2 separate regions of the Homo sapiens genome follow, and region 2 is linked to region 1. Evidence: fine-mapped expression QTL. A gene starts in region 1. The other region holds a variant in brackets. All regions are shown on one strand. Distances are between the middles of the regions. Region 1 holds the start of BNIP2 (BCL2 interacting protein 2). Region 2 overlaps FAM81A (family with sequence similarity 81 member A).

Evidence for each region.
Region 2: its variant is fine-mapped to the expression of BNIP2 in whole blood (INTERVAL, PIP above 0.99).

The regions. Positions count from the first base shown.
Region 1 is chr15:59,688,291-59,691,010 of GRCh38, reverse strand. It overlaps BNIP2 (BCL2 interacting protein 2), which reads left to right and starts at 1,691. Exons shown (of 10, transcript NM_004330.4): 1 at 1,691-1,876. RefSeq lists a silencer at 1,414-1,923 and an enhancer at 1,337-1,985.
Region 2 is chr15:59,522,647-59,525,666 of GRCh38, reverse strand. FAM81A (family with sequence similarity 81 member A) reads right to left here. Exons shown (of 9, transcript NM_152450.3): 9 at 2,112-3,020. It also overlaps the pseudogene RPL21P114. Among named protein-coding and RNA genes, the nearest start is that of FAM81A, 86 kb to the right of the region's middle. The variant T/G (reference allele first, on the strand shown) is at 1,178.

The DNA of each region.
Region 1 (2,720 bases):
CCTCAGGCCTGATCGTACCCCAATGGAATCACCCAAATACTTGATGCTGAGCCTTTCTATGGATTTATCAGATGAAACTTTGGAAAGGGACTTTTTTTTTTTTTTAAGACAGGGTTTCGCTGTCACCCAGGCTGGAGTGGAGTGGCGCGATCTTGGCTCACTACAACCGCCGCCTGCCAGGCTCCAGAGAGTCTCCCACCTCAGCCTCCCAAGTGGCTGGGACCACAGGTGCATGCCACCAAGCCCACCTAATTTTCTTCTTTTCTTTCTTTCTTCCTTTCTTTCTCTTTGCTTCTTTTTCTTTCTTTCTTTCTCTGTCTCTTTTTTTTTTTTTTTTTTTAAGAGATGGGGTCTCGCCATGTTGCCCTGAGGTCTGGCGATCTACCGACTCGGCCTCTCAAAGTGCTGGGATTACAGTCATGAGCCAGCACGCCCAACTGAGAGAGACTATGATGTTCTCCAAACAAATCTCATTTGGTTGAAACTCTACAGCTGAGTATGGTCTAATTTGAGTAGTTTACCTTGAGTACTCTAACCATGGTCTATAGACCTGGGCTCTTCTGAGAACTGTTTGCAAATGGTTCACAGAGAGAGAGTAGAAAACTCTATGTCAATTTTGCAGGTAATTTTATGGCTGTTAACTCTAACGATAAAAAGTTTTGACTTGGACTTTGTATGTCTTTTCATTTTTCTGTTTTATTAACTTGTCAAAAACTAATTGAAAATTGAAAAAAATAAACCGACCGTTCCCCCAGTGAAGAGAAGCACTGCTGTAAAGCTTTTCACACTCAAATATTACCAAACTCTAAGGTCGCTTCTGAGGCCTAACTCCCCAAAATGATGCCTCGGATATTTTTCCTCGCCTTATTTCTTTTTTTTCTTTTTCTTTTTTTTTTTTTTTCCTTTTTCCTTTTATTTGAGACGGAGTTTTTGCTCTGTTGCCCAAGCTGGAGTGCAATGGCACGATCTCGGCTCACTGCAAACTCCAACTCCGCCTCCGCCTCCGCCCTCGCCTCCTGAGTAGTTGGGATTACAGACGCGCGCCACCACGCCCAGCTAATTTTTGTTTGTTTAGTAGAGACGAGGTGTCACCATGTTGGCCAGGCTGGTCTCGAGCTCTTGACCTCCGGTAATCCACCCGCCTCGCCCTCCCAAAGTGCTGGGATTACAAGCGTAAACCACCGCGCCCGACCTCCTCCCCTTATTTCATCCATTTTATAATTCACATTATTGATCGCTGATAATTGCACCTATTGTAATGATACTGATAATTGCACCTGTTGTAATAATATTGATATTGATAATTGCACCTATTGTATTACAATATTATTATTGATATCGATAATTTCACCTACTGTAATGATCAATAAAGGCAGGCAGAAAGAAAACAAAAGTAACTGAAACTACCAGGCAGCGTCCCTGCGAACAGCAAAGAGGGAAGAAACGCCTTGAGGCGTAGTAACGCCACCAATAAGGAGTCGACGCGACGGGTCCGCCCACAGGCAAGGAAGGCCGACCCCGCGAGTGCAGGCGCGAGCGCTAGCCCGTGACGTCTGAGGGGGTTGGGGGGATGCTGTGTGGGTTTCAAGAAGACGCCACGCCTCCGCCGCCGCCACGCCCCCGCCGCCTCCACCGCCGGCTGCCGCGCCCGGAGGAGGTCGGGATGTTATCACTTCCGCCGGGGCTTCTCACTGTGTCCGGGTCAGCTGCTGCCGCCGACGCCGTACCGCTGCGGCCGGGGGATTGGGCCGGGGTCTCCACCGCCGACCGAGGGGAGCGGGCTCCGCTCGGCCCTGCTTTTTGCGACCTGGCCGTCAGCCCCACGTCGCCGGCCTGGAGGGGCGAAGAGGACGAGGGGGCCAAGGCTTCCTCCGGGGTGAGTGCGGCCTGGGAGAACTCGGCACGGTGGCTCCGGAGCTGGACTGGGAACCGGCCTAGGGGCGAAAGTCTGTCGGGCGCGTGCCCACGACGTCCGGGGAGAGGAAACCCAGAGAGTTACCCTTGGTAGGGGGAGCCATAGAACCTGCTCGGGAGGTGCTTCCTGGATCCCCGCCCTGCTTAGGTCCCCGCCCTTGGCTTGGGTCCTGTTTGTATTTGGCAGTTTGGCCCCCCACCCCGTCGCTTTTCCGTTTCTGGTAGTTGTGCTCGGGATGGAACCTTGCCCCTCCTCCGCTCCCCCACCCTTTTACCCTGGTGTGGGTGAAGTGGCTGGGCTACGATGGTTCAGTATTTATGACCAGCGTCCGTCCTGGTACAGAACAAAGAAACTTGGACTTCTGGTATGCCTCGTAACCGCGGGGAATAGACACGGAAGCAGCATAAGTAATCAGGGCTTTAATAGATCTTCCCTAGTACGCTAAACCAAATACAGAGTGTGTACGTCAAAAGCCGAGTCCCCGCGTGAATCTAGACACAACCCTTTCTGTTTAAATACCTGGCAAAATGGTTTGGATTTCTGGATGCATTTCATGCCGCTGGAGAGTTACTTGTCTGTGTCTTGTGAGCTCTTTGACGAAACAGCTTTTCCGGTGTTGCATCAAGATAGTTACGGTGCCTCCTATTTATTTAATTGAATAAACTATGTGATTGCATTTTAGTGTTGCTTTTTTCATTCTCACCTTCTCTTGATTAGGATCTCTATTTCACCTAATACCTGATTTCGTATTTTCAATTAAATGTAGTTTTTCTAACATTTTATAGGAATCTCTGCAATTGTAGAA
Region 2 (3,020 bases), 170 kb after region 1:
GCATTTCTGTAAACAAACAATATTCTAGCCAAGAGAATTACTGTATATGTTGAGCATATGAAGTACTTAAAGAGCCAAGATAGTTTCCTAAACGCGGAAGGAAAACGATCAGAAAACGAAGGAACCCAAAGAGAAACGTACCTGGGTTCCGCTGAAGCACCAGCCTGCTCTACGCAGAGAAGCACACTTAGTGAACCAACAGAAGAGGGCCTGAGCTGCTGGAACCTGTTCCCTATGAATTTATGGCACAATAGGTGCCAAAAAATTAAGGACCTCTTGACTGTTAAAAAAAAATCCATGTAATTAGTGGCTACTTATTAGTGCAGCAAGCCTCAGATTTTACATTACAATCACCTGCAGGACTTGAAGCAATTTGGTGCGTCCGTCTCAGAGCCTCTGATTCAGTAGGTCTTGGTGGAGCCTGAGAGTTTTCACTTCTTTTCTTTTTTTTTTTGAGACAGACTCTCACTCTGCTGCCCAGGCTGGAGTGCAGTGGCGTGATCTCGGCTCACTGCAACCTCTGCCTCCCAGGTTCAGGCAATTCTCCTGCCTCAGCCTCCCGAGTAGCTGGGATTACAGACATGTGCCACCACGCCCGGCTAATTTTTGTGTTTTTTGTAGAGATGGGGGTTTCACCATGTTGGCCAGGCTGGTCTTGAACTCCTGACCTCAGGTGATCCGCCCACCTCAGCCTCCCAAAGTGTTGGGATTACAGGCGTAAGCCACCATGCCCACATGTACACATACCCGATTCCCCACTTTCATTTCTTTTGGGTAGGGAGCTCCACTTCTAAGCTCCCTCACATGTCTATTGGAAATTGTCAATTCATCTTGGGCCATTTTTGGTTCAGTTCATCTCAAAAAGTTATTTTGTCGTCCCTATAAATCCAGAGCTAAAGGACCTCAGCAGTATCCTTTTATAGAGTAGACACTGCACTGCAGGCCCACCTGACTGAGACTCAGAGTCCAGATTCCGGCTGGAGCAGGAAGTCGGTAAAATGTCCCCCAGTGACCCCATCCCCAGGTGTTCAGCCCCTTGTGTGATCCCCTCCCGCTGTGTGTGTGCTGGACTTGCTTTTCATGAAGAGACTAGTGGAAGTGGTGGCTTGTCACTTCTGAGATTAGGTTACAAAAGACTAGCTTCCTTCCCGTTCACCCTCTCTCTCACTGGTACTGG[T/G]GGAAGCAAGCTGCTGTGTTGTAAACAACCTGTCAGGAGGGCTGTGTGGCAGAGCAAGGGACTGATGTCACAGTGCTTTGTGATTCTTTTTCCCCCTGAAAGCCTAGTGGGATAATTACAACTTGAACGGAGCCATCTTCTCTGTTCTGCTCTACACTCCCCTACACAATCCATCTCCCGATGTGCAGAGCCAGCCAGGGACCACGACCTAGGACAGCCCAAGTGCAGGGGATGAAATGCCTGTGATCCTACAAGTCCTGTGGCACCAACTGCCCCCCACCTCTGGTGCCTCCACATTGATACAGCCAGGGGAAGACGTTTGACAAGCTAATTAGATTGCCTCATTACGTATTTGGAATCGGGGCATTAAAAAGCGAGGGTAGTCAGATGGCAGGAGGCCAAGCTCATATAGATATGGCTGATGTCAGTGGCCTAGCAAGTCACTTATGTGGGAAGCCAAAATGTCTTCGGAGGTAGTGTGGTATGCTGGTAAGGCTCCCAGAGTGCGGAAGTAGGCGGCCTGGCTTGAATCATGGCTCCCATTTATCAGCTATAGGACTTGGGGCAAGTTGCTTAACCTTTAGGTGACTCTGTTTTCTCATCTGTAAAATGGGGAAATGGTATTGAACTCAACTAGTTAAAATGAAAAGAGTTGACATACACAGGGGACACAGCACAGGCACACAGCACACACCCGAGAACTGCCAAGAGACAAGAAGGCTGCAGAGAAGGCCCTACAGCCCCGAAGCCCACAGACCAGCAGCTCCCAATGACATTCCAGTCGTCAGAGGAGCTGCCAGGACTTGAGCACTTTATTTCAACCATCAAAGCGTTTCCACAGAGAGCAAACAGAAATATTTCCTATGGCATTTTACCTAATTAAGTCTTCAGCTCAACACTGAAAGACTTTTCAATTTAAAAATCATACACCACATTTATGTGAAAATTTTATTTTTCTTTTTATTGCAAATTTCTGGTAAAGGAAAGAACATGGAAGCTGATTCTCATTTGAGCTTTGGTGAGAAGAGAACTGCACTGTGGCTCGACAGCTCACCACCTCGGCTGCACACCCAAACACGCGGAGGCCTCGGGCACGCACTGATGCCTGCGACCCACCTCCCAGAGGTTCTGACTTAATCGGTCTGGGAGGCACAGCGGGGCATCAGTAGATTTCCCAACTCCTCTGGATGATTTCAACATGTAGCCAAGGTGAGCACACCTGCGGTGGCTCATCTCAAGGGGCTGGCAATGTCAGAAGCACCTGAGAAGCTCAGCTGACAGCCAAGTGTCACCTGCTTACATCACTCCTTGGCCAGAGTCCAGCTGGTGTTCCCCGCCTCCCTCTTCCCAGGTGTCGATGTTCTGATTCCTTCTCCTCAAAGACCCCACAAGACAGAGATGCTGGAGGGGGTGTGGCTTCCTGTGCTGTGGTTTGTGCTTAAACGTGGAGAACCACATGAACCACGTGTACGCTACCACAAAAGAAATTCACTTTCTGATTGCAAAACAGCATTCGCCTTTTTTTATTTGTTAAGTGGAAATTTGTGGCAAAATAAGAAAATATGTGTTGGATAATATAGTCCCTATATAACCTCTCATGTCCAAATTTGAAAAAAAAAATTGTCAAGCCATTGACAGCAAAATATGTACTTTAGCAGCATATTTTATATGGGTAAACAGTAATAGCCAGTTAGACACTTCATTTGTGATTTGTCCTAAAAATAGAAAATGCTTTTTATTTTCCTGAGTCCTTGGCAAACAAAAAACATTTTTTTCTTTTTAATTGTTAAAGTATTCCTGTTTTTCTTTTTCCTGGGACACCCTCACAGTTCAGAACGTTGTG